Regions from separate parts of the Homo sapiens genome. Here regions 2 and 3 are each reported to be linked to region 1. Evidence: microRNA targets listed by miRTarBase, many of them from high-throughput screens and not tested one by one. Region 1 holds a microRNA gene; each other region holds the end of a gene's coding sequence.

Region 1 (3,345 bases):
AGTCTAAACAAAGGCCAGCGGGGGAGGCTCCGGACGGTGAGGCTTGGGGAAGCCACTGATCCCTGGCCCTAGAGGGCCAGATCGGGGGCGCCCCAAGGACCCTATCGAGCTGGCAGTGACTGCAGTCGGGCCGTGGAGTGTCGCCTGTGATTCCGTGGTCCCTACGGGCAAGAGCTCCCATCCCGGTCTGAAACTGTGAGAACCGCAAGCTCCGATGGGGGCGGGGAAGGACGACCTTTAATTCCCACCCCACTGTACGGAGCCCAGCAGGGCCATCCGCAGGAGGCCGGCGGGACCCTTGCCTTTCTCAGGACTGAGAGGCTTGGAGGACCGCGGTGTGAGCTGCGCGGCAGAGTGCGTTCTGCAGGCGCCAGACAGGAGACGCGAACCCGCGGTCAGGGCCCGAGTGCGGGTGCGTGTCTGCGGGTGCCGCTGGGCTGCGTGCCGGCGAGGCGTGCGCGTGGCGAGGCGTGCGCGTGGCGGGGTGTGGCTAGAGGTGTCAATGTGCAGCTGGAGGGGCTGCGCGCGTGGGTGCAGGAGGGCCATGTGAGGGGCTGGAGTGTGTGGGAGACAGGCGTTTCCTTGGGTCTCCGTGTGGCCGCCGGGCGCAGGGCACGGTCGAGGGCGCTCGATGGCTGAGTCCGCGTGAGCCGAGGAGCGCGCGGGGCGGGACGCGGTGCGAATGCGCGGGAGGCACGAGGCGCGCAGTGCGTGTGTGCGCGTGTGCGCGGCGCGCGTGCCCCGCAGTTCTCAAGGACACCTCGGGGAGGCAGCGGCGGGGCCGGTGTCCGGGTGACGTCACCGCGCGCCCCAGTGATAATCGGCCGGTGCCGGAGCGGAGCGCGGATACGCGCGGAGGCAACGGCGACGGCGGCGGCGGCGGCGGGCGCGGGGACAGTTGCATCGGGGCCGGGCCGGGCTAGCAGGAGCTGGGCGCCTGCAGCGTGGACCCCGTGGACACTCGGCTCGCAGCCGGCCTGCGGCGCTCGGGGACTTGCCTGGCTCCCTTCTCGGGGTTCCCGCGCCCTTCTCCGCCCAGGGCAGCAGCGCGCGGGGCCCCCGGGAGCCGAAGAGCAGGCGGGAACTGGCGGCGGCGCGGGAGGCGCAGGGAGCGGAGGCGGCAGCAGCGGCTCCCGCCGGGACTGGTAATTACGCTCGGGGCCGGGCCGGGGCGAGCCGGGCAAGCGGCCTCTCTGGGTCTCCCCGTCTTTCTCTCCACGAACAGCTCGAGCGCCTTCTCGCGGGCCCGCTGCGCGCGGAGAGGACGAGCTCGCTGGGTTGTAAAAAGAGACGAGTTTTCATCTTTGAGCATCGAGATTCGTTCTTTTAACCGCATTCGGTGCGCGCTCCTGGGTCGGCACGGGCAGGGCGACGGCAGGGGAAGGCAGCTGCGGAGGAGCTCGCGCCGCCCAGTCGGAGCGGTTCTGCGCCCCTCGGAGCCCCGCGGGAGGCGGCCGGGTGCGCACGCGCTCACCACCCCCACCCCCGGAATCCGTCTTCGCGATTCCCGGGCGCCCCAGCTCCAGGAACGCCCGGAGGGACGCACTTGGGGGCCCACTCTCTGCCGCGGAAAGGGGAGAAGTGTGGGCTCCTCCGAGTCGGGGGCGGACTGGGACAGCACAGTCGGCTGAGCGCAGCGCCCCCGCCCTGCCCGCCACGCGGCGAAGACGCCTGAGCGTTCGCGCCCCTCGGGCGAGGACCCCACGCAAGCCCGAGCCGGTCCCGACCCTGGCCCCGACGCTCGCCGCCCGCCCCAGCCCTGAGGGCCCCTCTGCGTGTTCACAGCGGACCTTGATTTAATGTCTATACAATTAAGGCACGCGGTGAATGCCAAGAGAGGCGCCTCCGCCGCTCCTTTCTCATGGAAATGGCCCGCGAGCCCGTCCGGCCCAGCGCCCCTCCCGCGGGAGGAAGGCGAGCCCGGCCCCCGGCGGCCATTCGCGCCGCGGACAAATCCGGCGAACAATGCGCCCGCCCAGAGTGCGGCCCAGCTGCCGGGCCGGGGATCTGGCCGCGGGACACAAAGGGGCCCGCACGCCTCTGGCGTCGCGGGGCGGGTGGGGGCGGCCGAGGGCGGCCGAGGGGGGAGCCTGCGGCCGGGGCCAGGCTGCGGCCAGCCGGCCCCCGGCCACGTGTGTCCGCAGCGCGGAGCGCCCAGGCGCCCGCAGAGGGCGGCGGGGCCCGGGAGACAAAGGGAGGGTCCACGGGGAGCGGCGGGCGGGTGCGTGGGGCGGCGGGCTAGGGTGCGGCGCTGTCCGCGGTGCTGGCGGCGGGGCGGCCCCCGCGGGACGGGAGGGCGGCCAAGTGCGGCCCTCGCCCCCACAGCGGGCGCCCTGGACAGTTGCCACGGCAACGTGGGAGGAGGTGGGGCAGGGTCTGAGGTCACCGCTAAGTCTGCCCTTCCTCGGGCCGCTGCGCCGCGGGGCGGGGCGGAGGCGGCGCTCGCTGTGGCCCCAGAGCAGCCCCCGCAGCCCAGGACCAGGCTTGCATGGGGACGGGGGTCTGCGTCCGCGTCCAGGGTCCAAACGAGGGCGGTGGACACGCCGGACCGCATCCCGCCCCCAAAGCCGGCTCTGGGCTGTGCAGGACCAGGCACGTGAGACTCCGCAGCCCAGGGAGAAAATGACAAATCCCTCCCCCGCCGCCATCTGCAGCCGCAGTGACACCCACTCGGGTTTGCTGCAGGGGTTTTTTTTCTGTCCCCGGAAGCCAGCGCCACCTGCTGACGCCCGGCACCGCCTCTGCGCCGCCTCCCCCGCGCCCATCCCAGGCCCCGGCTGGGCTGTGATGCCCCGGTAACAGTCAGAGGACGACCCCCTCCCCAAAAGCCCCCTTCCCCTGGGGCGAGTGCCAGACCTGGCTTTGCAGCTTTGCCTCTTTCCTCTTAACCAGGTAGAGGCTGAGCCTCTCCTCCCCGGCTTCAATCCGAGGCAGGAGTCTGAGTCACCTGAAGTTCTCCCAGCTCCAGGCCCAAGGCAGGGAGCAGAAGATCAGGATAAAAGGAACCATTTGAGTTTCAGGCAGTGGCATCTCCACCCCCACCACCGCCGCTGCAGGGCCACAAAGGGAACCTGCCTCTGCGGCTGTCCTCAGCACAGACCTCCAGCCCCTCCACCCAAGTCGCCTGCTGCAGACACAAGCAGGAGCCACTGGTGCCTCCATCTTCCCACCCCCACCCCAGTCAGCCAGGCAGAGTCAGAACACGGTCCACCAGTCTCCTCAGGGGCAGGTTCCCCCTGGAGGGCACAGAAGTGGCATAGGCAGCCCCAGCAAGCCCCGGCCTGACCACAACACTGACCCCGGGGCTTGGCGTCCCCTTCTTCCTTCCTCCCGCTGTGAGGGGAC
Region 2 (3,345 bases), not on the chromosome of region 1:
TCAGCCCCTCAAACTCATCACTGTTGCCTTCTACGAATCTCTGAGTCACTTCCTCTCATTGGCAGAAGGTGCCAGAGCCTGGCTATATTCTCTCCATCCCGACTCCTGTCATTGTCTTTGGTGACTGGAACATCCATACCGACAATTCTGATGCCACCATAGCCTTTGAGTGTCTCACTCCCTATGACCTTTGTCCCCGCCCCCATAGCATACACTCAATATTTGTTGACAATGCGTAGACAACAGACTCATTGGAAGAGGTGCCAGTTATCCTCAAATTTATAATGCCTATAACTAGGGTGACCATATCATTTATTTTCCTAACTGGGACAGGTTTGTGAGTGAAAGAGGACACCAAAATAATTAAAATTATATTACTTTTGGAAATATTTACTTATTGATGACAAATTGGTTTTTATATTAAGGCCCCTATAAAATAACTAGATTCAAAAACCATTTTCCAAAATAAAATATTTCTTTAAAAAATCCAAATAACTTGTATGTGTACATGGAAGCAATGTTGAAAAACTCCTTTATGGGGTTTATCTTCACATGCAAAGATGTAGGCGGAATAATCGTTCTTAGTCCTTCTTTAAGTTTTTAAAATTAGCTTTTTTTTTTTTTTTTTTTGACGGAGTCTCAAACTCACTCTGCTCACTCTGTCACCCAGGTCACCCAGGCTGGAGTGCAGTGGCACCATCTCGGCTCATGCAACCTCCACCTCCCAGATTCAAGCGATTCTCCTTCCTCAGCCTTTCAAGCAGCTGAGACTACAGACATGCACCACCATGCCCAGCTAATTTTGTATTTTGAGTAGAGACGGGGTTTCACTATGTTGGTCAGGCTGCTCTTGAACTCCTGATCTCCTGTGATCTACCCGTCTTGGCCTCCCAAAGTGCTGGGATTACAGGCATGAGCCACCATGCCCGGCCTAAATTAGCTTCTTAGCTGAGTCTGGCATGAATAGAGTGTCACCAGTATCTTTCTGAAGAATTTCCTTTAAAAAAAAACCCAGATTTATATTTTGAAGTTTTTGGACAAAATTGTAATTGCATTCAAAGTAAATTTTATGGCAAATAAATCTGAAATTGTTGACACCTTTAATTGATTCTTCTCTGTAGACCACAATATTTTCAATTGACAATATACTCTCTCTTCAGCTATTAAGAAATTTGGTAAGCTCAGTGTAAATTCTGCTGACTGAATGATATCCTCGATTCTAATTTTTTATGTAAATATTTTGTCCCAAATATTGACACAATTACTGTTTCTGCTCCCATTCAGAGTAGTATTCTTCACAATATATTTTTATAAAACATAACCTATCAAGTAAGTCATCTCTATTTATAATTCTTTTGGACATTTCCCAATTACACATATATTTCACATGCTGATAGGTGAGTCTTTGGAGAAGCTGGAAGTAAAAAGTGAAGTGCAACCAAACTCATCCCAGCTTATTTTAATGCAGCTAGCAATAATATTTGGTTAACAAATGAGAAATCCAAGAGAAATGCTCAACTGGATGGACCCAGGGCAGCAGGTAAAAATGGGGCCTCTTTGGGGAAATGTAACACTAACTCCTCAAGGGTAGCTCAGTGCTTCTAGATCACGGCAGCAGATACAAATCACCAGAGAGCTCTTAAAACGTGCCAATGTTCAAGCTCCAATCCCAGGGACTCAGATTTCACTGGTACTGCGGTGGAGCTTGGGAACCAGCACTGTAGTCTCCTAAGTGATTCTAATGCACAGCCTACTACACCACTTTTGGTTTTGGAGACAGAGTCTCACTCTGTGGCCCAGGCTGGAGTGCAGTGGCACAATCTCGGCTCACTGCAACCTTCACCTACTGGGTTCAAGCAATTCTTGTGTCTCAGCCTCCCAAGTAGCTGGGACTACAGGTTCGTGCCACCATGCTAATTTTGTATTTTTAGTAGAGACGAGGTTTCACCATGTTGGCCAGGCTGTTCTCGAACTCCTCACCTCAGGCGATCCATCTGCCTCAGCCTCTGAAAGTGCTGGGATTACAAACGTGAGCCCCCGCGCCTGGTCTACTGCCCCACTTTTAAGCAAGATCAGCTTGGTCCTCAAGAGCTGGCTGCTCCTAAAGCATCATGTGGCAAGTATTCATCGACTCAGACAACAGCGAGGGAGGCACATCAGGAGAAGCAACATCACTGTACATTGTCTCTGCACCTCTACAGGTGTGTTGTTACCTTAGGCCAGTTGTGAGCCCAGAGAAGTTGCTCTGGGAACTGAGGAGAGCAAATGGTGGCCCTGCCACGAAACTTGTGTACAAAAGACACAGTCAGAAACATTGCATGTCATCCTTCTAAACATTTAATTCAGCAATTCCTACATTGTCATGACAAAAATGAAACTTGCTGAGGGTTACAGAGTTCTAATCAGAAATAACAACTTAAAAATCTCACAAAAGCTCTACGTAAGCCTGTCGTAAGGGCTGCACTGTATTCCGAACATTTATTTTGAAAACAATTGTCAAAATGTAAAATCTCCAGCACCCTCAACATGATGTAGCCTTTTGGCTCATTCTATACGTTTGTGATCATCTTTGTAACTCCAAGTTTTGGAATATGAAAAAGCATGATGGCAAAGAATAATAACAAGACATTTGTTTCTCCATGCCCTGCCCAAGACTTGATGCACCGTGCGTGCCCCATTAAGCGGTGGGGTGGTCCAACACGTCAGTTAGTAAAGCAGCACTTGCTGGTGCTCTGCCTGCTCTGAATTCAGTTCCGAGGCTGTGAGTTGAACTCTGTACAAATGTTCTGGATGATCCTGGGGACATACTGATGGAGGTTGTCAAACTCGTCCACAAAGAAGGAGTGGTCTCTGGCGGGGTGAGTGGCAATGACTTCTAGCTCCTCTTGGGCAGCCCAGGCAACGCCTATCGCATAGGTGATCACTCCTGTGGGGACAAAGGTTAGATGAACAAATGTCCCCAAGTAAAGGTGCTGCTAAAGAATCTCTCTCTTCTTGTGGCCCTGTTGGCACAGCCAAATCCAAAATCAGAAATATGCCCAAACAAAACAAAACCAAAAATACGCTACAGGCCTCTAGGTTTCCAGAATAAAGACTAAGTATGGCCATTCATTTATTCACTCAATAAATGCCTTTGAGCATACACTCTATGCCAACAGTAACAACGTTTATATAATTGTTATCTCAGGAGTTTATAGTATTTTAGGAAACAATGAACAAAATGGAGTAAATAACATGGTAAGAATTTCATGTTTGGGAATAGAAGAGGGGAAGATATTTTGGGACAAGTGAAACTTTTGGGGCCATGCAGATCAGAATACATGACACATGCCTGCTCTACCAGTG
Region 3 (3,000 bases), not on the chromosome of region 1:
ATTTCATTCGTAGGGTAGCAGAAGACTTGCTGGAAGAATGCATTTTGTGAACATGAGCCCCTTTTTGATTTGAGTTGGTTCTGGAGTTGTAACCTTTCTTTCAGGTGGTTATTTTAGGGCTTTTAAGGGGTTGCTTTACTTCTCAGGTGAATTGTATAGCTTCTCATGAGAGCTCAACTTTATTTTAAACCTTTTAAACCTTCTGTCGCCCTCAAATTCAAACCACACACAAACCAGGTTCTATTTATGCTCGTTTTTCTTTCTTCTTGGCTCAAAGTGTGAAGAAGTTTTTAGACTGCTTTGTAAAAATCAGCCTTTATCATTTGATAATGCTCCCAAACCCTGCTGTGTTTCAGGAGACAGCTGTGCCCATTCAGAAACAGAGATCAACATTGTAAGTTGGAATGCTCTTATTTTGCCACCTGTCCCCGAGGGCTGTGCTGAGAAGACAATGTGGTCTCCACCTGGCATTCCTTTAGACAGCCCGACAGAGGTCCTTCAGCAGCCCCGGGAAACCTGAGGACATGCAAACAACCAGTCATGTTCCAACTTCAAGCCGGTAACTGCACACAACAGGCCTGGGAGCGAACTGTGTGAAGGACCTTAATTCAAATCAGAGAAAATCATTATTTATTTTTTTGTAGTAGTAATGTCATATGAATGTATCTTAAAACGTGTGCCCTTTTATATTATTTATGCCTTAAATGTTTTCTTCCCCATTCCTTCCTCCCCCTCGGTAGGAAACAACCTTGTTTTGCATAGTATTCAGTCACCTGGAGGGCAGAGGGGTCCTTCCATGTTTTCTAACAGCTATAGTGACAGCAAGAGCTCCTCATGCAAAGGATCCCATCTCTTGGCTGCTTCGGCTAGGAGGGAATGCAGGGGCCCGTTGAAGGTTGCCACCAGCTGGGTTTTCAGGTGGAAAATGGTCTTTCAATAGTGTATTCTCAGACTTTTTTTTGTTTGTTTTTTGAGATGGAGTCTTGCTGTCATCCAGGCTGGAGTGCAATGGCTCGATCTTGGCTCACTGCAACCTCCGCCTCCCAGGTTCAAGCAATTCTCCCGCCTCAGCCTCCTGAGTAGCTGGGACTACAGGCACCTGCCACCACGTCCAGCTAATTGTCTTGTATTTTTATTAGAGACAAGGTTTCAGGCTGGTTTTGAACTCCTGACCTCAAGTGATCCACCCGCCTCCGCCTCCCAAAGTGCGAGGATTACAGGCGTGAGCCACCACGTCTGGCCTGTATTATCAGACTTCCTGAGAACACTTTGAAATCAACTGCAGTTGTGACCCATGTTTATAATAACAGACCTGGCTGACGGATTTTACAAGAGTGCCTTCCACAGAAGTGGTAATGTGACCTGTTGACTTTGTATCTGCACGTGGGCACGAGTGATGTTCAGTTTGCTAGGCACTAGTCATAGTGTTATGGACGTGGTGGAGTGTAAGGTCTTGATGAATTACGGCAGTATGCAGAAAAGGAACCAAGGCCAGAGAGACAAATAATGCCTCATGTCCCACTGCTTTAAAATTACATTAATTTATAAAATGGCCACTATGGGCTCTTTTTGACTGTTTCTCGGAGTAGGAACAAAATAAGACATTAAATGGTGGCTTGAAGAGAAAGATACACATTTTCAGAAGAAAGAAAGGGGAGGGCTGCAGGGAGCCTGTCTTGGCGGGAGCTCTCCAGTCTGTTGGATTAGCACAGGGACACGCTTATGGTGCCATGACGCCGAAACTAGTCATCCCCCATCTCCAGCATAGGCAACGGCCTGCAGGGGTGAGTGTCAGAAAAGACTTACTTTGGAAGAAAAGGGTTTTTTTTTGTTTGTTTGTTTTTTGTTTTTTTTTGTTTGTTTGTTTTGGGTTTTTTTCCTGAAATTTCCTGATACCTTTTTCAGAATGTCACCCTTGTAAATAGGCACCTAAAGCCAAGTTGGTCAGCAGAGCTCCTGACCACGGCTGCCTCTGCGTGACAAGGACATTTGCAGCTGCCTTTGGAAGGCTCTTCACATTAAAAAACAATAATTATGTAAGTGTGTTTCATAGCTTGAGTCAAGCTTTCAAGGATCACTGCTCCTTTGTGCATTGTGCATCCCTTTGGGGAAAGAAACAGAAAATTATTCTCTTTCTATAGAGTCAAGCAATTCCAGCAGAAGTGAAGAAATGTTAGTTTCCCAGAAATCGCAGTGGAATAGAATACAATACTGTGTTAACCAACTTTCTGTATAAATGCATCAGTATTCCCTTACATATGTCTATATATTTTATAATAGAACTGTTAGTGAAAATGTGCTTGTTTAAGCTGGGTCACTATGCAAGAGTTACTTCCAGTAGAATGTAGTGAATGTAATTCCCTAGTCGGATATTAGGGATGCTGTAGACCCAAGTTCTACATTCCAGATGTCCGTGCCTATAGTATACTGGATTTATTCTTCATGTTGCTTAAATGCAGTTAGCTCTGGAGGGGGATAGCTGCATCCCTTACTTCTGTGACTAGCAAAGGACAAAGTCCCAGCGCACAGAATATGAAAACATACCCTGTGTTAGCCAATCAAGTTACAGCAATGCTGTCACAAAGGGAGTTTTAGAAAACTGGGGAGTCATTGTCCGTAGACAGCCATTTTGATTTAGGAAACAGGTGTATTAGCATGAGCCTTAGGTCATGAACTGCTTTTAAAGATTGAGTTTGAATATGGGATCTGTCCACGAGGAAGAGAAAATGGCTTTACCTTTAGGACAATCTCATTGTGGACTGCTTTATTTATATTATTAGTAACGCTGTTTTAAGTGTTATTCTTTTTATTGTATTTTATTTATAAAAAATGCCTTTATATATTGAAATATATAAATATATATATATAAACACACACACACACACACACACACACATATATATATATATATATAATTGCCTTTATATTTAGGCGGTATGAGTTCTCCCTAAGCGTGAGTTGGCTCTGCCCTGCACAGGCACCCAAACAGTCCTACCTAAT

What was found. The annotated mature microRNA hsa-miR-124-3p reads UAAGGCACGCGGUGAAUGCCAA and lies in region 1 at 1,813-1,834, shown strand. An mRNA with a match to its seed (bases 2 to 7 or 8) in the 3' UTR can be bound and repressed. Matches are read on the target gene's strand: a 7mer-m8 pairs with bases 2 to 8, a 7mer-A1 pairs with bases 2 to 7 and ends in A, and an 8mer does both.
Region 2: the mRNA of VIT is a reported target of hsa-miR-124-3p. The part of its 3' UTR that is shown has no 7-base or 8-base seed match.
Region 3: the mRNA of CDON is a reported target of hsa-miR-124-3p. Seed matches in the 3' UTR shown: 7mer-A1 at 697-703 and 7mer-m8 at 1,335-1,341.

The regions. Positions count from the first base shown.
Region 1 is chr20:63,176,740-63,180,084 of GRCh38, forward strand. MIR124-3 (microRNA 124-3) reads left to right here and starts at 1,761; the gene lies at 1,761-1,847. RefSeq lists an enhancer at 1,008-1,968 and a silencer at 2,256-2,545.
Region 2 is chr2:36,813,764-36,817,108 of GRCh38, reverse strand. VIT (vitrin) reads right to left here. Exons shown (of 16, transcript NM_053276.4): 16 at 2,315-2,926. The coding sequence ends at 2,748. Among named protein-coding and RNA genes, the nearest start is that of VIT, 120 kb to the right of the region's middle.
Region 3 is chr11:125,958,462-125,961,461 of GRCh38, reverse strand. CDON (cell adhesion associated, oncogene regulated) reads left to right here. Exons shown (of 20, transcript NM_001378964.1): 20 at 357-3,000. The coding sequence ends at 520. Among named protein-coding and RNA genes, the nearest start is that of VSIG10L2, 14 kb to the right of the region's middle.